Linked DNA regions of Homo sapiens: region 2 is linked to region 1. The links come from fine-mapping of genetic effects on plasma protein levels. A gene starts in region 1. The other region holds a variant in brackets. All regions are shown on one strand. Distances are between the middles of the regions.

Region 1 (13,086 bases):
GAGAGATTTATATTTTGAGTAAAAAAGTAAAAATCTCAGAATGCAATATACTGGTTTTTATATCGTATTTAATACATGAGTAAGACACCAGGCTTGGTGGCTCACTCCTGTAATCCCAACACTTTGGAAGGCCAAGACAGGCTGATAGCTTGTGCATAGGAGTTCAAAACCAGTCTAAGCAACATAGCAACACCCCATCTCTACAAAAAATGCAAAAATTAGCTGGGCATTGTGGCATATGCCTGTGGTCCCAGCTACTCAGGAGACAGAGGTAGGAGAATCGCTTGAGCCCAGTAGGTTGAGGCTGCAGTGAGCTGTGATCACACCAGTGCACTCCAGCCTAGGTGACAGAGGGAGATCCTATCTCAAAAAAACAAAAAACCAACCAACCAAACAAACAAAAAACATGAGTGAAGAGGCATCACAAATTAGTGGGGCTGAGAATATTCAATATACAGTAATGGAGCAACAATTACCTTTTTTGGAGAAAAAAAGAGAAATTTAGGTCCTCTCAACACTATAAACGAAATAAGTTCCATGAGGATCAAGCAATTAAATTTTAAACTTTAAACATTAAAAAAATACAAAAATATAGTTAAATATATTTCTAATGTCTGGATGAGGAAAGAATCTAAGCAAACCCCAGAGACTGTACAAAAGAAACAATGATGGAGGTGAGAACAGAAACTTGTTATATTTCTATACAACAAAATTTCTGTAAATCAAAAATAAAAAGGCAAACAGCAAGGAAAGAGCTACAACAAATATGAAAAAGGGCAATTTTCCTAACTCATGTAGATGATTTTTTTAAACTGAACGATATATATCTGTGTATGTGTGTTTAATATACGTATCCTATAATCCCCTAACTCCAATTTTCCTTACTTAACTTTTCTAGCATCCACAAAATATGTTTTAGAAAAGAGTAGGCTAAATACATTTTCTTTGTCACTTTTTGCTAACGTAACAATTTCCAAGTTATAGCATCTTTTTTTTTTTCCTCCAAAACCACTCTGGGAAAAAAAAAAGTAGAGGGGCTGTTGTTAAAAGATGATGGGGGGGATCCCCTCGGTGACTGGAGTTTTCTGCCTTCTATTTCCTCCCTTCTCAAATTTCAAGCCCCATTGGTCAGTAAAAGAACACTGGTCCCAACAGCTAAAGAGACAGGAGTAGAGAGGAAGACAATGAGACAACGTCTTGTAAATAAGAAAGAGCCAGGGTGGTGGCCTGTGTCTGCAGTCCGGGCTACTTGGGATGCTGAAGTAGGAAGATCACTTGAGTCAGGCAGTTCCAGACCAGCCTGGGCAACATAGTGAGACCCTGACTCAAAACAAAACAACAATGAAGATTAAGAAAACCAGAAAGTGTCCTGAGGAGCAAAACAGATGACTAAAACATTACAGACTTAGCTATAAGGTTCTATATACAAGTAACACACGATTATATTGTCCTTGACAATAACAGATAAGGCTGCGCTCCCTTGAGAATGACAGATAAGGCGCAGGTACCTTTTGACCTAACCCCAGGCACTTCTCCCTTGCCTGGCAGTGACTACTGGTAAAATTGGCAGAGCTACTTATTTTACAAAATCTCCCAGACACTCGCCTAAGGGCCAGATGATCCCCATTTTAGAAAAGGAAAACAAAACTGTTCAACAACTTGCCTAAGGTCACAAGGCAAGCTTGTGGCCAGTTCCAATTCTCAGTGCTTGCTTCAGACTAGGAGAGGTTTTGCTGAAAATCAATTTGCAAGTCATCCTATTAAACACAAATCTGTTTTTTGCCAAAAAAGATCGCTGTGGGGGAAGATGTTATCTTGTTTGTTTTGATCAAGAAAAGAAAGGGCCTTATCTCAATGAAATGTCCCATTCGTGGTAGGATGTAAGGGTACTTTTGACCGCAGATTTCAGCTTAAAATAAAACGACCTTATATCCTCATTTAGCAGCCAATCATGGCCTTTGAATCGGGGAAACCTCATTGACCAGCAGTTTCCCCAAATCATACATTTCTGCACACAGCTTCTATCTAGGCGTAGGAGAGAACGGAAGCACTCAGACCACCCAGAGCCAGAAAAGGACAAAAAAAGCACTTTGAATTTTTTAAGGAAAAAAAAAAAAAAGAGTGAGATTCAAAAGCAATATAATTACACAAGGTAAGAACCGGGGAAAAGAGACATGTTTTCAAAAGCACAAACCCAGTAACAAACTCTCACGCCTGGAGAAAAAAGAGGCATGGCAGCTGGTGCGCCTCTTGCTTGAACCTACCTGCGTTCAGGCCCAGCAGCAGCGGCAGCAGCAGCAACCACCGCGGGACGGGAGAGCGCCGCAGTGCCAGCTCCATGACAAGTACCGCACGGCAGCATCAGCAACAGGCTGGACCCGGCGCCCCATCACGTGACGGAGGCGGACGGGGCGGGTCGGGGGCGGGGCCTGCGGGTCGGGGGCGGGGCCTGAATGGGCATGGGGCGGGGCCTGGGCGGACCCGGCAGCTTGCTGAGACCCGCACGCCCTCTGCCCGGCAAGCCCACCAGGACCCCTGCAAATGCGCAGGGGCCGTTCTGTCCGCCTGGCCAGGTTCTCTGTCATTTTAGGGAGAGTATTTCGGAAAGGAGACATTTGATGCAGATGTTGGATTTAGGTTGTGTGACCGGATCGAAATACTAAAGGGAATAACCACCGCCCTTTCTACCCCTCCCATCTCTTCCTTCCCTCAGCAAAAGAACCGACGTTTTCCAACACTGCTACATCTGCGAAGTCAGATTAAGCCAGCTGGTCGTTGGCAAACAGCGGGGTTTCATTTTCAGATATGTATTTTTTAAATTATTTTTCTTTTAAAGTTATGTATGTTATAAACGTTTTGGAAATATGAACAAAAAAGTTATACATAACTATTGTTGGCATTTTTTCCCATAGTCTTTTACGTCATTTTAAAAAACACTAATAAAGATTTTTATTTTTTTTTTCTTTTTTGATAATTTGTCATTAGTATTACTCTGTGTTACGTTATCTTCACAGCAGTCATTTTAAAGAGAGAATCGAGGGTCTGGGGACGGGAAAGGAAGAAAAAGTGGATGACAGAGCTGTTTTCCTCTGTGTGTGTGTGTGTGTGTGTGTGTGTGTCTGTCTGTCTGTCTGAAGGTCATTTTTACGTTAGAGGGTACTGAATAACTCACCTCACAGCTAGGAGACAAGCTACAGCAGGGGCTGTAGGAGAGGCTACTTCTAAATACTGCTTCAAAAGTACATGTAACAAAAAGCAAAAAACAAATCAAAGTACATGTGGCCACTTCTCCTCTTTCCCTGCTCCTTTCTCCCTCCCCTCGCCCTTGACCCCCATAAATGGAAGTGCTTTTTACTCTGCAGCCATTGTCTGGACAGAGCCTTGACCCCGCCCTGCCTGTGAGGTGCCCCTGCACTGAAAGCTGCGGCAGAGAAAAATATGCCGCCGGGTTCTGTCATGCTTTAAGCATGGGATGGTCCCGAATGCATAAAATCCATAATGCCTGGGCAACATATTGAGACCCCCTCTCTACAAAAAATAACAAAAATTAACTGATGTGGTGACACGCGCCTGCTGTCCAAGCTACTCAGAAGGCTGAGGTGGGAGGATCACTTGAGCCCAGGAGCTCCAGGCTGCAGTGAGCAGGTGTTCCATGCCATATGGGAGATACATAAAAGTACATGCTTAGTTAAAAATAAATAACTATCTAGCAAACTTTTCCTGTCTGAAGCTTCCAAGTTGGTCTGTATCACTAGGGCTTGAAATACACTTACCCTTCCACTGCAGTCAGAATTTTAGGGTTTCAATTTTTTTGCCACAAAAATAACACTACAGCCCAGGGCGCAAGGTGGCTCACACCTGTAATCCCAGCACTTTGGGAGGCCGAGGTGGGCAGATTACTTGAGGTCGGGGGTTTGAGACCAGCCTGGCCAACATAGTGAAACCCCATTTCTACAAAAATACAAAAATTAGCTGGGTGTGGTGGCACTTGCTTGTGGTCTTAACTACTCGGGAGGCTAAGGCATGAGAATCGCTTGAACCCAGGAGGTGGAGGTTGCAGTGAGCCAAGATGGTGCCACTGCACTCCAGCCTGGGTGACAGAGTAAGACCCCATCTCACACACGCACAAAAAAATTGTGCATTTTATAATACGCTAATATGACTTCAAAAGGAAAAAATATAAATAAAATGTCACCTCTAGTTAATGATATTCATATTAAAGTGTTTAGGGGAAGGTGTACCAATGTATACAATTTTCTTTGAAATGTATCCAGATGCTGGCACAGTGACCTATGCCTGTAATCCAGCTCTTTGGGAGACCAAGGTGGGATGATTGATTGAGCCTAGAAGTTTGAGACCAGCCTGGACAATATAGTGAGACCATGTCTCTTAAAAAAAAAAAAAGTATCCAGAATATAAGATGGATTGATGGATAGGATGGAAAGAAGGTTGGATACATGGATAAATACATGATATCAAGTATTACAGTAACATTTTCTTTTTTCATTACAGTTTATAATCACAGGAACAAAATAAACAAAAACCACATGTAGAAACCAGATTAAAGCTTGTTATCCTTACAGGCAGTGGCGAAATTCCAATCTTCAGGGTTGGAGTGGTCTTTGTTTAAGAAAAATACCTCCTTGGTTCATTGAAGTTAGGAGTTGGGAGCTGATGGCATAGTAGCTGCAGCCAAGGCAACAAAAGATAATTGCCAAACTGTGCGGCCCAGGAGAAATTTTGTTTTGCTCCTAGGAGAGGAAAGAAGAGAGAAAGATGAAAAGAAGTGAAGGCTACATATAGAGAAAGATTAGCCAAAGAGAGTTGAGGCTGGAAGAAGAGCCAGTAGAAATTTCTCCGATGAGGAGTGGCTATGTAATCCCCCAATGGGTTCTTTTTGCCTGCTGCCCAGATAGAGCCAGCCAATTTATGAAGGCAGGGGAATTGCAATGGGGAAACAGTTTAATTCATGCAGAGCTGGCTGAAAGGAAGACTGGAGTTTTATAATTACTCAAATCAGTCTCTGAGGAGTAGTTTCAAAGACAGTTTAGGGGTAGGAGCAGAGGTGGCTAGGCAATGGATGCTTGCTGCTGATTGGTTGGGTTGGAGATGAAATCACAGGGAGTTGAAGCTGTCTTCTTGCGCGGATTTGCTTCCAGGTGGGGCCGCAGGAGCAGTTGGTAGGTCCAGGTGGAGCCAGGTGTCAGACATGCAAAAAAACCTGAAAAGATATCTCAAAAGGCTAATCTTAGGTTCTACAATAGTGATGGTGTCTGCAGGAGTAATTGGAGAAGTTGCATATTTTGTGACCTCAGGAATAATGGCTGGCAATCCTTAGCAGAATTCAGCCTCCTCTATTTTCTTAGCCTGGTGGTCATTTAGCGTAAAGTTTGGGGAAGGGCCATTATCATTTAACCTATAACCTAAATGCCTCCCAAAGTTAGCTTGGCCCAGAAGTCCAGGAATAATTAAAGGTAGCTTGAAGGCTAAAGGCAAAGGCAAGATGCCGGTTGGTGAAATCAGATCTCTCCCACTGACAAAATGTTCTCACTGACACAGTTTATGCAAAGGCTGTCAGCTACAGAACATTTTTTAAAAGTTATGCTTGTGGTTCAATTTGAAGTGGATTGCATTTCTACAATGTAAACCTGTCCTCTTGGGGCAGCTAAAAACTATAATAGGACTGGGCCAGGCGCGGTGGCTCGCGCCTATAATCCCAGCACTTTGGGAGGCCAAGGAGGGTGGATTGCCTCAGCTCAGGAGTTCCAGACCAGCCTGGGCAACATGGTGAAACTAAATTAGCCGGGTGTGGCGGCTTGTGCCTGTATTCCCAGCTACTCGGGAGGCTGAGGCAGGAGAATTGCTTAAACCCAGGAGGCAGAGGTTGCAGTGAGCCGAGATCGTGCCACTGCACTCCAGCCTGGGTGACAGAGTGAGACTCTGTCTCAAAAAAAAAAAAAAAATTATATATATATAAAATACGGCTATAAAGGAGGCAATAGGACTGGAAAAAAGATACTGGGTACTGAACCTCAAAACTGTTTTTAAAATTATATGTTTATTCTGAGAAGGGTTTGGGAGGGAGGCTAATGGAAATTGGTTGGGAGTTCCTAAAGGCCCATCCATCGAATTCTTGGTGCAGATGCTTGTGGTAAACCTTGGCATTACGTGACTGTCTTCTCATGTGTCTTCACATCATCTTCCCTTTGAGCATATCAGTCTCTGTGCACTTGTGTCAGGCAACCTAACCAGAGTGACTCCATCTTGAATAAAGGCCAGAAAAAGCCAAATCTGCTGGGTTATATTCCCAGGGGGTTGGGCACTCTTGGTTACAAGATGTTTATGGTTGAGGGAACTAGTTAATAATGCTAACTAACAGCCCTTTCCCAAAACAAACCCCCTTCTTGCCTGGAGACTAGACTGCCTTTGCAGGACTAACAAATTAGCCACAAGATTAGAAATTATGGTTTAGGAGTAATGCGGCTGGAGGCTGCAAGATTCTGAGCCTTCCCAAATTGCTCCTGGGGATAACATCACTATAGTTAAACCTAAGATCAGTGCTTGAGATATTCAGCAGACCCTGCGCTGGATGGATCAGCTGGCATCACCCAGATCGATAAACTGGCTCATCTGTTCTGGTGGCCCCGACCCAGGAATTGACTCAGCACAAGAGGACAGCTTAGATTCCCTATGAGTTCATCTTCAACCTGACCAATCAGTGCTCCCGACTCACTGGCACTCCACCAACCAAATTATCCTTAAAAACTCTGGTCCTTGAATGCACAGGGAGACTGATTTGAGTAATAATAAAACTCCTGACTCCTGCGCAGCCAGCTCTGCATGAGTTACTCTTTTTGTTTTGCAATTCCCCTGTCTTGATAAACCGGTTCTGTCTAGGCAGTGGGCAAGGTGAACCCGTTGGGCAGTTACAGCAGGGGCCACCATGTTCAGCCCCAAACTTCTTTTCTTTTAATTTCCATCCATAAAACTCTACTTGATGTAGGTGCAGACATTCTTAATAAAATATTAGCAAATAGAATTCAGCATTTCATAAAAAGAATTAATTCACCATAACCAAATAGAATTTATTGTAAGGAAACATAGATGGTTCATTATTTGAAAAACAATCAAAATGATCAACCACATTAAAAGGAAAAAGAAGAAAAATCATATAATCATATAAATCAGTGCAGAAAAAATACCTGACAAAATTTAACATCACAAGTTTAACACACAGTTTTTAAATTTATTATTTAAAAAATTCAGAAAATGGGAATTGAGGGGACCTTCCTCAACTTGATAAAGAGCATTTACAGGCAAGCTACTGTGGCTCACGCTGGTAATTCTAGTGTTCCTGGACAAAACTGAGGGTTGGGCTGCTATTTCTTGTGCCCCAATAATGAGATGCAGATGAATTGGGGAGAGAGTTTTTATTTCTGTAACCAGTTACAGGGGGAAGGCCTGGAAGTTATTGCCAGACCAACTCCAAATTACAACATTTTCCAGAGCTTATATACCTTTTAAGCTATATGTCTACGTGTAAGTGTGCATTCATCTAAAGACATAAGTGATTCACTACTTTTAATCTATAATTAAGGTCTGAGTCCTGAGGATCTTCCTCCGGAGCATCAGTAAATTTACTTAATCTAAATGGGTCCAGGTGCTGGGGTGGTTACCCTTATCTTGTCTCCTGCTAAATCATGGAGGTTTAGGGAGTTCCTTCAGACCTGCAATAAACTTGTATGTGGAGGCCTGGAAAGCTTCTTCAGACTCATGATAAAACTTGTTTAATCCTAAATGGGTCCTGTTAAGAATTCCTTCATTATTTTGTCATGCTTTAAGGCCCAGGAAAGGCCTACGCAAAACTCTTGGTGGGCTTTTGTTCCATCCCAGCCTTTGTATAAGGGCCACTGGCTTTTAATATTTAACTTAACCACTCAGTCAATACTGAAACAGTTGTTACAGAAGCCTGCTTTAGTGAGATCCGCCTGCCACAATCTCCACTGTCAATTTGCACATGATATCTATCATGCTTGTATATTTATTTATCACGAGGATTGTAGGGAGATGGGACATCATAACCTTTCTGGCTACTTCCTGCTGAGAGAGGGTCGTCGTTATGGGGCACCAAACACAGCACTGGAGTGGAAGAGGTCGATTTGTTCTTGGTAGCACTCTCTGCTTCAGGGCTTAGAGGCAGCACCTGTTGAAACATACTAGTATGCAACAGCAACACATGTAAATAGTTTGCAACAGCGTAATAGTATGCAACAGCAACATATAAATAGGTTGCTGCTGTTTTCTTCTGAAATTTAAGTTGTTTAGTTCACAGGGCTTTAAGTAAGCACAGCTTAAGTTTCAGTGATTTCCAATTGAAAGAATGGGGAAAAAGGAAACTAAAGAGGAAAAAATTGAAAACATTATTTTGGAGACCTGTAGCCAGAAAAATTAGAACTTCATCCAAACTGTAGAAAGTAATAAAAACTGAAAAACATCAGGCAAGACTAGAATTTAACAATAGGTGTACTATAGTTTTTGAAACATAACTTTTCTGTCTCCAGTTTCCCATTTTTACTAGAGACAAATCATGATAGGACCAATTTGCTTTATTATACTTGGCCAGATTATTTGTTTGTTTGTTTTGTTTGAGACAGAGTCTCAGTCTGTCACTATGCTGTAGTGCGGTGGCACAATCTTGGCTCACTGCAACCTCCACCTCCCAGGTTCAAGCAATTCTTGTGCCTCAGCCTCCCGAGTAGCTGGGATTACAGGCACGTACTACCACACCCAGCTAATTTTTGTATTTTTAGTATAGAAGGGGTTTCACCATGTTGGGCAGGATGGTCTTGATCTCCTGACCTCGTGATCTGCCCACCTCGGCCTCCCGAAGTGCTGAGATTACTGGCATGAGCCACTATGCCCAGCTGGCCAGATTATTTGCATAAACTGCAGCAAGAAAAATTATTTTTCACATAGACCTTTTAAACTGGCTTTGATGGAACTTTGTTCCACAGCAGGAATCTCAGATAAGACTTTAAAGCCAAGCCCAGTCATGGATTTGTACCATCAAATACCTATGTGTTGGGTGAATTTCTCTCCTCTTGAGGTTCCAAGACAACTTGGGGTTCCGTTGGCTCCATAAGTCAAGTTTGATTTCTTAAAGGAAAGCACACCATTCCAGTCAAAGCCTTGGTAAAATGATCAGTTTTTTCAATTGTGACCTGTTACAAAAGAAATCAGATTTTTATTCCACTTATCCAAATAACTATATTGCCATAGATTAAGAATACTTACAAATAGTTTTCAAATTCTGGAGAAAATCAGCTAGAGAGAAACAAATATGCTCAAATTTTGTTCATGGGAGTATACTAAATTGTTAAAAGCTGTCAATAGTTCAAAAGAAAAGTTTCCTTGACTCTGAAAAACAAAACAAAGAATTAGCAATATTTTAAGCAAAAAGTCAAAAGATCACTTCAGTCTCCTATTAGTTCAGTTAATGCAGTTAATTCCTGTCCTGCTTGATATTAATGAGCAGTTTAGCTCTTCAAGAGTCCTGAGGCCTGGCACGGTGGCTCACACCTGTAATCCCAGCACTTTGGGAGGCTGAGGTGGGCGGATTGCCTGAGGTCAGGAGTTTGAGACCAGCCTGGCTACCATGGTGAAATCCCATCTCAACTAAAAATACAAAAAAATCACCAGGCATGGTGGCACATGCCCGTAGTCCTAGCTGCTCGGGAGGCTGATGCAGGAGAATTTCTTGAACCTGGAGGTGGAGGTTGCAGTGAGCTGAGATCACACCACTGTACTCCAGCCTGGGCGACAGAGCAAGACTCTTGTCTCAAGAGAAAAAAAAAAAAAGTCCTGAACATTTTTCCTCAGTTCTGATGTCACAATCTCCAAAGTTATCAGAAACCTGCATTCAAGAGCACCTGTTAGAGCTTTATAGCTGATTATAAAACCACCTTCTAAAGAGGACCAAAAGAGGAGAACAATTGTTTATGGATGACAAAAAGTTTTAGGGTAGCCATAGTTAAAGATACAATTGACAAGGAAATCTGTTACCTCTGTGGTACACAATAACTTAACATAACTATTATAATTATTATTGATAATGTACACTAAGATATATTAGAAATATAGGAGTCTCCCATAACTTTGGAACACATACCAATAACATATTCATACAAATATAGCCCAAAGAAAGCCAAACACCATTTCATATTTGACAATTCTTCCTGCATAATTCTTATACCAAATAAGCCAATTACACCTTTACATTAGTGTACTATTAATGTTAAACCCAATTCTTAGTAAAACCTTATAGACATATTTACCCAATTTTAATGTTTGACCATAAGGTAATATTTTTATAGACCTTTTATAACCCTTTACTAAAAATACAAAAGATTAGCCAGGCATGGTGGCAGGCACCTGTAGTCCCAGCTACTTGGGAGGCTGAGGCAGGAGAATGGCGTGAACTCAGGAGGTGGAGCTTGCAGTGAGCCAAGATCGCACCACTGATCTCCAGCCTGGGCAACAGAGTGAGACTACGTCTCAAAAAAAAAAAAAAAAAAAGCCTTTACAATTTTTGTTAAAGAGCAGGTTAGTGCTCTAAGAGAAACCCAGTGTGCTTTTATTTTAATGCTTAATTGAGAAAAACACTGGATGATACACCTTTAACTTCAGCCAATATGTTTACACAAAGAATTTCCTTTACAATCAACCTTCCACAACTTGCTTAAACCTTCGTCTTTATTTTGTTCAACTTAAAACAATCCTTTAACCTTTAAATTTAGGCAAAAATCCACATTCTCATGCCTCGTTATAATCTTTTTACCAAAAGTATATTTTACTTTCCTTACACTGCTTGCATGTGAACTGTTTCTTTAACAGTCTTAAATACATGTTACACTCTTAACTCTTGGCAAACTTTACTTTTGTGAAAACCTTGCTAAGTTTGGGATTTTAATTATCTACTAAGTGTGGAGCCTAGAACCTAGACAGAAGTGCAGGTAAGTCTGACTTATTCCAGCATCTAACTCCATGTGTCCTAGGCCGTACCTAGCTGTAAAGCAGGCAAGTTTTACAGCTAAGAGTCATAGAGGCAATTTTTTAAATAAAGTATTTAGGAGGTCTAATCACCTTTAAATTGTACAACATTTCTTGTGTAAATTCCCTTTCATAAATTCTTTCTTGACTTACACAGGCAATCTCTGACATGCCTCAACTTTCTGACTTGTCCTAAATAGCCCTTTCTTTAAACAACCAGTTATTTTACTTTATGGCAACAATTTACCATATGAGATCTTTTCTTACATAAATTCTCTTTTCTTTAATACCTTGTTTTATATATAACCTTTAAATAAGTTTTGAATTAGACAAAAATTAGTTACCCTTTACAAAGGACACAATTTTTAGAATGTTTTCCTACCATATATATATATATATATATATATATATATATATATATATTTTTTTTTTTTTTTTTTTTTTTTTTTTTTTTTTGAGACAGAGTCTCACTCTGTTGCCCAGACTGGAGTGCAGTGGCGTGATCTCCACTCACTACAAGCTCTGCCTCCCGGGTTCACATCATTCTCCTGCCTAAGCCTTCCGAGTAGCTCCTACAATATATTTTTACTGGAAAATAACCAAATAATAAAATCTCTGTTGTTTAATATAACTTTAGATTCTAAATTATGACAAGTTTGTTTATGAGTATTTATCCCATTACATTTATCTAATTATTTATTTTAATCATTTACCTAGATTATTCATGAAAACTGTGATAGTCTTCATTTAAAGTTATGAAACTGCCATTGCAAAATTATAACTGAGCACCAACATGGCACATGTATACATATGTAACTAACCTGCACGTTGTGCACATGTACCCTAAAACTTAAAGTATAATAAAAAAATTATAACTGAGACAGTGAAAACGATCTGACCTAACTGACTCCATCTTGCTTCTAACCTCCAAGCTATTCTTGTTCATTAACTTAGAGTTTAGCTTTGAAACAAAGATGATAACAGTCCTTTTGCAGAACAAACTTCCTTCATGTCTATGGACTAGACTGCCTAACACAAGATTAGAAGTTTGGGTATTTAACTAAATAATTCAAGATGTAGCTTCTTCATTAAACCAATATTAATGTTTCATTTATTAAAAATTACACAAGCAAAGATCATTCTGTATTGGGCTGAGTCATACTTTTGTAGCCTCTATGCCAAATTTTGACACCTTCTAGTATTTAGCAGAGATAAGTATGAAATTGCTTGATCAATAAATGCAAACAAAAATGTACACTGGCAGCTCCTAAGACATTTCTAATATTACTTTACCAATAATTTTTAAAGCTAGCTTATTTATTAAAGATGTTACTTAAGTCACATAAACTTGAAAAAGCATTTGACTAGTCTTTCCTTTGTTCTGTTAAAGCATTTAAGTGCTTTTATTTTTCTTTGAGCCAATTAATTAGAACTCCTTTATATATTTTCAGTAGTGAAACATGGTGTACACAAGACACAAATATATAGATGCATTAGGCATGCCAACAGAAGCACATTTTACAGATTCATAAGATGTCGTTTTTCCTCTTTTAACTGGATCTTTGAGTTCTGGGCAGAGCCCATACCTAATCTTGGGTTTTCAAAAGGGAGACTTATTATGAGGCTAGACCATGTGACCAGCTTTTACTGTGCACTTAAAAAATATTTTTTCAAACAAAGTGTCTAAATTATACTTTTTCTTAAAAACCCTAGAGTAGGCCAGGTGCGGTGGCTCACTCTTATAATCCCAGCACTTCGGAAGGCCAAGGCGGGTGGATCACAAGGTCAGGAGATCAAGACCATCCTGGCCAACATGATGAAACCCTGTCTCTACTAAAAAGTACAAAAAATATGGCGGGCGCCTGTAGTCCCAGCTGCTTGGGAGGCTGAAGCAGAAGAATGGTGTGAACCCAGGAGGAGGAGCTTGCAGTGAGCCGAGATCGCACCACTGCACTCCAGCCTGGGCAACAGAGAGAGACTCTCCATCAGAAAAAGAAAATAAGAAAAAAACCCTGGAGTAGCTTCTGTTGCAATAGC
Region 2 (8,268 bases), 78 kb after region 1:
GGTTGTGATCTCTGTGAGGTCAGGGGCTGCGGCTTATTTATTTATTTATTCAGGATCTTGCTCTGTCGCCCAGGCCGGAATGCAATGGCGTGATTATAGTTCACTGTAACCTCAAACTCCTGGGATTAAGTGATCCCTCTGCCTCAGCCTCCCGACTAGCTAGGACTATAGATACACACCATCATGCCCGGCTAATTAAAAAAAAATTTTTTTTTTTTTGAGACGGAGTCTCGCTCTGTCACCCAGGCTGGAGTGCAATGGCCCAATCTCTGCTCACTGCAACCTCTGCCACCCAGGTTCAAGCATTTCTCCTGCCTCAGCCTCCTGAGTAGCTGGGATTACAGGCATGTGCCACCACACCTGGCTAATTTTTGTATTTTTAATAGAGACATGGTTTCACTACTTTGGTCAGGCTAGTCTTGAACTCTCGACCTCAAGTAATCTGCCTGCCTCAGCCTCCCAAAATGCTGGGATTACAGGCGTGAGCCACCGGGCCCAGCCTAAAAAATTTTTTTTGTAGAGCCAGGGTCTCGCTAAGTTGTCCAGACTGATCTTGAGCTCCTGGCTTCAAGTGATGCTCCTGCCTTGGCCTCCCAAATCATTGGGATTACAGGCTTGAGCCACTGTGCCTGGCCTGTCTGATTTTTCTTCAACGCTATTTCCCTAGTGCCTAGCACAGAGCCTGGCCCATAGTAAATCTCTGTTGTGTAGTCCAAGATTGGGCTTGAATCTCAGCTTGGCCTGCCGAGTGTCCTTGCAGAAGGGCTTCTGAAATCGGTGGCGGTGCAGCCCCATTGTGGAAGTGCTGCGTGGGGGCAAAGCTATAGGTGGCTGGTATGTGGGAGGAGGGGAGAGAAAGAATAGTGGGAAAGGAACAAGTGTTGACCCAGCCTCCGCTACATGACCTTGATCTCATTCAGGAGTCACATCAACCATGAGCAAGGTGAAGTCATCCCCATTGTGTGCTCGAAGAAACCAAAGCTCAGAGAAGTCTCAGAGGCCACAGAGCTGGGTGCTGGTGGAAAAAAGACTTGGCCCTTGCTACATTTTAAAAAGTCAGAGAAAAAAGGGAATACACCAAACTGGTTCTTAGATCACCTTGTTTGTAGCTCTTGTAAGCGATGGGATGGGGAAGGTCGGAGGAAATGGCTGTCTGTGTAAACCCTCTGCCTGCCCACCGACCCATGGCAAAGCTGGCTGCTAGGGTCAGTGAGAGGAGCCGCACACACTGAGCCCTTCTTCTCTGACACAGGTGACCCTGGAGAGCATGACCCAGCGTCCACACACAAATCCACACGCCCTGTGAAGAAGGTCTCCAGTAAGTAGCCCCACCCCTGTCTCCATGGCAACAGCATGGCTGTGGCCTCCCCAGGCTCTGGCCAAGTCACTTCCGGCCCATCCCGAGTCACTGTGGGGCCTGGACCTCAGTGGGAAAGAAGTTGGTGGCAGTCCCCACTGCGGGGGGCTGTAGGGCTGTGGCAGAAGCTCCGCTGTCCATCAGCATTGCACGTTTGGGCTGCCTGGAACAGCAAGATGCCTGAGGCTGGCTTGTTTTGAGAAATATTTACTATACCCAAGTCCTTGGGCAGAGCCTTGGGCAAGGAGACTGATGGCGGTCCAGGAAGGGTGGAGGCTAAACCTCCTTGGCATCTCAGCAGTGTTAAGTCTCTGGGTTGTAATGGGCTTCTGCTATTACCATGTTTCTCAACTGTTTTTTTTTTTTTGGTTTCTCACTGTTACCCTCCTCCTGCTCATCCCCAGAACCATTTGAGAAAATTTTTTTCCTAATTACAACCCATGAAATTTTAATACCACCCATCTACTGCATAACTGTTTATGTTTGTGCTTTTACACATAAAAAGAGTAATCTTTTTTACTCCCCCTCCCCCAAGGATCCATTTTTGCCCTCCTAGGGGTACTATCCCCCTCATTGGGCAGGCACCTGCCATTGACATGGGGGTTGAGGAGAAGAGTGGTCCTGTTCTGCAAATGTGGACAATAGTGATATCGAGGCCACAGGATGATTCTGAGTGATGAGGGGACACTGATTGTGAGAGCTCTTTATGAGCCATATACCACTGAGATGTCCATATACCACTGAGATGTCCATATACCACTGAGATGTCCATATACCGCTGACATGTCCATATACCGCTGAGATGTTCATATACTGCTGACATGTCCATATACCGCTGAGATGTCCATATACTGCTGACATGTCCATATACCGCTGACATGTTCATATATCGCTGAGATGTCCATATACCGCTGACATGCCCATATACCGCTGACATGTTCATATACCACTGACATGTCCATATACCACTGAAATGTTAGCTGTCATTGCTTCCCTGAAAAGTTGGTGTGAACCCAGGAGGGCTGGCTGCACACTGCTGGTGTTGGGGGGATGAGAGAGCCAGGGCTTGCTCTTTGTTGTTGTTGCTTGTGCTTAGTGTTCAGGTCACCTGTAGCAGGCAGAGTGTGGTATCGGTCCCCGAATGGAACAGAGTCAGGGCTGGGATGCCTGGTGCAGATGGAGGAGGGAGCCCTTAGCTGGGCCGGAAAACCTCGAAGGGTACTTTGTGTGAAAAGAGGAGTGAAAGAGGAAGTGGAAAGGTACTGTTGACCTGTGTCCTTCCCCAGTCACCTTCCTCTGAAAGCTCCTCCCTTAGTATGAATGAGGTAGGGATGCCGGCCAGCAGGCAGGTGTGTTCCCCAGTGAGGTGAGGTCCTCATGTCACAGCAGAATGACACCCTGGAGAATAAAGTTCGGGAATGAATCAAGGCTCCTCTAGGCTGAAATGGGGAAATAGGGGAGGGGGTATGGAGTAGTCCCAGTGCAGAGAGATGTCTAAGGGTAGGTGATGAGGGAGGTGCCTGTGCCCTAGATTGATGTCACAGCCTGGGCCTCCCAAGATGCTGGTCCACAGGGAGTGGGTGGGAAAGTGGCAGAAGGGGAGGAAATGGGAGAGTGAGCGACTGTGAGTGATGTGACTTCGAAGTAGGAGAAGCGGTAGCAAGGGGGCTTTGTGGTGTGATGGGGGTCTGGGGGAGGGAGAGGGTAATAGGAGAGAGCAGGGCTTATCTGTAATGTCAGGTGTCCTGCAGGTGGGCAGGGATATGATTTCAAAAACGCCCCTTTTTGTTCCAGTGTTGTGGAAGGTGGCAAAGAAGGAAGCTGGGATCTTCTAGCCCACTTGAGTGGACTTTGGACTCACCTGGAGGGCTTGTACATCACAGATTGCTGGGTCTCACCCCCAGCCTTTATGATTCAGTGGCTCTGGCTTGGGGCCCAAGAATTTGCATTTACTATTTTTTAAGAGACAGAGTCTCGCTCTTTTGCCTAGGCTGGAGTGCAGTGGTGCGAACAGAACTCATTGCAGCCTCGAACTCCTGGGCTCAAGTGATCCTCCTACCTTAGCCTCTTGAGGAGTTAGGACTGTAGGCATGTGCCACTAAGCCAGGCTAATTAAAACAATTTTTTTTTTTTTGTAGAGACAGGATATTGATATGTTGTCCAGGCTGATCTTGAACTCCTGGCCTCAAGCAATCCTCCTACCTCAGCCTCCCAAATTGCTGGGATTACAGGAGTAAGCTACAGTGCCTGACCAATAATTTGCATTTCTTAGGGGTTCTCTGGTGATGTCACTGCAGCTGGCTTGGGCACCAGACTTTGAGAACGACTATTTTAGCCAAACTCAGTTCCTGTAGGTAGACACTCCAGATATTTTTAAAAGACTTGGCAAGCATTTTTTTTTTTTTTTGAGACAGGGTCTCATTTTGTTGCTGAGGCTGGAGTGCAGTGGCAAGAACACAGCTCACTGCAGCCTCATCCTCCTGGGCTCAAGCAATTCTTCTGCCTCACCTCCCAAGTAGCTGGGACTACAGGTGTGTGCCACTAGGCCTGGCTAGTTTTTTCTTTTTTTTTTTTTTTGTAATTTTGTAGAGATGGGGTTTCCCCATGTTGCCCATGCTAGTTTCTAACGCTTGAGATCAAGTGGTTCCTGCACCTTGGCCTCCCAAATTGCTGGGATTCCAGGCATGAGCCACCATGCGCCCAGCCCTTGGCAAGCATTTTTTTTTTTCTGATTCCCTATTTGGTTTTTGTGTTTTTTCCTTTATGGAAATATAA[T/C]TTACCTGCAGTAAATCTCTTTTTTCCCTGCAGTAAATCTTAAATGTGCAGTTAGATCTATTTTGACAAATGCATACATGTGTTACCATTGTTCAAATCAAGATAAAGAATTTCCCTTTCTCCAGAAAATTCCTTCATGCTCCTTATTAGTCAGTCCCCGCCCCCACGACCGCTCATGCTGGTTTCTATCACTATAGATTCATTTTGCCTGCTGACTCCTTCTGTTTTTCAAATTAAAACATCCTTTTATTTGTCTGGGTCAAATTCATGCACATGAATGTTATTATTTTGAAAATGTCATTGTGTTGTGCCTTAAAAGAAATTAAATCTGAAAACTTTCTTTTGCAGAAGAGGAAAAGAAATCCAAGAAACCTCGTAAGTTATGCATTTCTGCAACTGTTCGTTTCTTGAGACTGCCCGAGCACAGAACTAAATGCTGGTAGTGAGAGTCGACCTCTCTCATCAGGGTTCTGTGATGGGTTCTATATGATTCCATTCTGTAATGGCAGCAGGCCTGAGGCTGGAGGGGAGGACAAGCATAAGTGAGATGAATAAGGTGACTTTAGCCTTGTCTGTTTTCCCCTGTGTTGTCCTGCTGTTCAGGCGTGTGTTTGTAGAAGTGGCTCTTAATCAGTGTGGAAGGGAGTAGAGGCCATCCCGTTGCTCTGTATCATATTTCCCTTTCCTTACCCCCAGCCCCTGTCCCTGCCTTACCCAGCAAGCTTCCCACGTTTGGAGCCCCGGAACAGTTAGTGGATTTAAAACAAGCTGGCTTGGAGGGTAAGTTATCATGGGCAAGGAGCTTTGGGGTGTCCACTCTGAGTTTGTTCTGCAAATCACTCTCTGTTTCCTCTCCCAGCTGCAGCCAAAGCCACCAGCTCACATCCGAACTCAACATCTCTCAAGGCCAAGGTGCTGGAGACCTTCCTGGCCAAGTCCAGACCTGAGCTCCTGGAGTGTGAGTAGCTTCGGGGCTGGTGCGCGGTTCCACTGGTTCTGTCTCTCCTGCGCCGCTCTGTGCAGCTCTCTGTGAGGCCAGCTGGCCGGCTATATCAGCCACTCCCCTTCACTTGTCCTCTACTTTGTTGCTCCCTTATTTTCTCCCAGTCATCAGTGCCTTTCTTTACTTTTCCTAACTAGCTCAGATTTCACAATCGGTCCTTTGACTCTCCCTCTTGCCGTCTAGTCTGGCCCAATTGAGCTCACCTTTCTCTGTGGGTCGGCGCCTGCATGTCCTCTGCAGAGAAGGCAGGGCGATTGCGGTCACCGGCCTTCACCGGGCGTCCCGTTGCCGGCATGCCTGCCCTGCATCTCCTGTCTCCTCCCCACCACTCTCCAGAGCCACCATTCCCAAGACTTCCCACTGGCCATAGCTCCATCCTTCTCCCTGTCCCGCCCACCTTCTGCTTCACGAAAAAGACAGACACTGTAGAAGGGGCTCCCCCTGCTCTGTTATTGACATCGCATCTGCATCTACTGTGCCCCCTTCCTCGCCTCCTGGCCCCTTTCCCAAGACCCCCTGGCCCTGGGCTCTGGAGTCTGCTCCCCACACGCTCTCTGGAATCTTCTGCTCTCTCTTAGGCCTTTCCATTCCCATCTCTTCACCCTCAGCATCTCTACCTAGGCTTGCCTATCTGTAGCACGTTTACATCTCTCCAAATCACAAAAACAAACCTAGCAAAACTGTCTCAGCTGCAGCTCTGTTTCCTGCCTCCCTTTCACCCGAATGCTTGTTAAAAATACAAATTACTAGCTGGGTGCGGTGGCTCATGCCTGTAATCCCAGCACTTTGGGAGCCCGAGGCAGGTGGATCACCTGAGGTCAGGAGTTCAAGACCAGCCTGGCCAACATGGCAAAACCCCATCTCTACTAAAAATACAAAAAATTAGCCGGGCGTGGTGGCACATGCCTATAATCCCAGCTACTTGGGAGGCTGAGGCACGAGAATCACTTGAACTTGGGAGGTGGAGGTTGCAGTGAGCCGAGATTGTGCCACTGCACTCCAGTCTGGGCAACAGAGCGAGACTCTGTCTTAAAAAACAAACAAACAAACAAAAAACCCCAAAAACCAAATTCCTGGGCCCTGTTCTAGCCCTACAAGATCAGACTCAGGCAAGCACGGAAAGCTGTATGTTTAGCTCATTTCCTCCATGATCCTTTTGAGGACAGTTGGGGAAAAGCAGCTCTGCAGATTTTCTACATTGGTGGCTCTCAACTGTGGCTGCGTGTTGGAATCCTGGGGAGCTTTTTAAAATCCCCGATGCCCAGGCTGTCCCCCAGACTGGTTCATTCAGAATGTTGGTGTTTGGCTGCCCAGGGTTGCAATGTGGGGCCGAGGTGGGAGCCTGAAGTCTAATCCTCGTGCCACTGCATTCTGACCTCTGTCCTGCCCTTGACCCAGGCAGCTCTGAGGTCATCAGGGTACTCCGTGTCACAAAATCCAGGGACGCCTTTCAGCTTTTATTTAGCTTCACCTGTCAGTGGCATTCCTCCTCCTTCTGACACTCTCTCCCCTTGCCGCTTGAGCTGCTATACCCCCCTGGGTTTCCATCCACCCCTCCTTTGCAAGCTCGTCCAACCTGGAAGTGGGTGGAGTTCCGTTGTCAAGGCCAGGCCTAGGGCCCTCCCACTTTCCGTCTTCTTGTTTCTTCTGCACCCACGTGCAACACTCCAGGCAGCACCTGCCAGTGGTACCCACTTCCATGTGGAGGCCAAAGCCAATCACTGAAAAATATAGCCCTTCCTTTATCATAAGCAGCTGCAGCAGGCTTGGTGGGGATCTGTGGGTCCCTTGCTTTTTCAGGGCTGGCCTTCTTGTAGCCCTCCGCTGTCCCTGCCCCCCAAGAGAGGCCCAGACCAGCCCTGGGCTGCAGCTAACTCTTGCCCAAGCTGCTAGCGGCGGTGCTGAGCCACGTCTTTCAGGAGCTGCTGTGCACTCTGTGGCAGCCGCATAAACAGGGAAAGTAAAATTCTATCAACTTAGGGCCTTTTCCACCCCCAGCTTATTCATTTTGCCTTGGGGGAAACTCGGGCTCCAGTGAAAAGTGTCATGCCCTGAGCCACCTAGCAAATGAGTGCCTCGCTTGGCTCCCTGCTGCCCACCAGTTAAAGTCTAGCCTCCTAAGCCCTTCCCTTTCTAGCCCCAACATGTTTCCCTTCTCCTGCTGCATCTGTGTTCCCAGCCACCCAGCTTCCCCGATCCCAGCACATGCGAATCCCCTTGGCACTCCGTGGCTTCACTCTCACTGTTCCCTCTGTCTGGAACAGCTTTTCTCTCTCTGTTCTCCTCTGTCTAGTTCTCATCTTCTGTTACTTGGCTCCAATTCCAGCCTGCCAGTGAAATGTTCCCCAACTGTAGCATCAGTTGCCTTGTCTCTGTGTCCCTACAGTGTGTGCTTACCCTTTTGGCAGAGTGTGAGTCTCATGGTGTTGTTACTGATGGACTTGCCTTGCTTGTTGGAGTGTGAACTCCATGAGGCCCGGCACCTTGTCTCTCTGGTTCATGGTTGTGCATCTTGTGCCAGAATCTGGTGTCAGTCAGGTGCCTGGTAAATGGTTTTGGATGGATGAATGGACAGACATACGGATGACTGATAGATGATAGATGGCTGGCTGGCTGGACAGAATGGATGGATGAATGGATGGATAGATGAGCTGATGAATAATGGATGGGTGGATAGATGGGTGGATGGATAAATGGACAGATGGATAGATAAGTGGATAGATTAATGAATGAATGAATGGATAAATGGAAAGGCAGAAGGATGGATAGATAAGTGGATAGATGGATGAATGGAAGAATGGATAGATAGGTAGATAGATGGGTATATGGATACATGGGTAGATGGATAGATGGATGGATGGATACATGGATGGATTGATGGATACATGGATAGACAGATAGATGGATGAATAGACAGACAGATGGATAGATGAGTGGATGGATGGACCAATGGGTAGATGGGTGCATGGATGGATAAAACTAGTGAATAAATAGTACCACTTTGGCAAAGGTCTAAAAGAGCACTTTGGGCCCCTTGTAATTAATTCCTTGGGGTGATGTTTTCTCAGATTACATTAAAGTCATCCTGGACTACAACACCGCCCACAACAAAGTGGCTCTGTCAGAGTGCTAT

Direction of the effects. Alleles are on the strand shown, and positions count from the first base shown. The strength of an association depends on the size of the effect and on how common the allele is.
With allele C in place of T in region 2, the plasma level of the protein whose gene starts at base 2,369 in region 1 is lower (moderate association).

Evidence for each region. PIP is the posterior inclusion probability: the model's chance that the variant is causal. The UK Biobank Pharma Proteomics Project read protein levels with antibody pairs (Olink). The fine-mapping took linkage between variants from a reference panel, not from the people measured, so its PIPs are less certain.
Region 2: its variant is fine-mapped to the plasma level of the SCPEP1 protein (UK Biobank, PIP 0.98).

What each region holds. Positions count from the first base shown.
Region 1 is chr17:56,967,414-56,980,499 of GRCh38, reverse strand. It overlaps SCPEP1 (serine carboxypeptidase 1), which reads right to left and starts at 2,369. Exons shown (of 13, transcript NM_021626.3): 1 at 2,265-2,369. The coding sequence starts at 2,340. It overlaps LOC105371836 (a long non-coding RNA gene), which reads right to left. Exons shown (of 4, transcript XR_934875.4): 3 at 9,075-9,221; 4 at 4,493-4,751. RefSeq lists a silencer at 2,427-2,486.
Region 2 is chr17:56,892,165-56,900,432 of GRCh38, reverse strand. It overlaps TRIM25 (tripartite motif containing 25), which reads left to right. Exons shown (of 9, transcript NM_005082.5): 5 at 1,253-1,318; 6 at 4,481-4,507; 7 at 4,829-4,912; 8 at 4,992-5,090; 9 at 8,204-8,268. Among named protein-coding and RNA genes, the nearest start is that of MIR3614, 4.9 kb to the right of the region's middle. The variant T/C (reference allele first, on the strand shown) is at 4,133.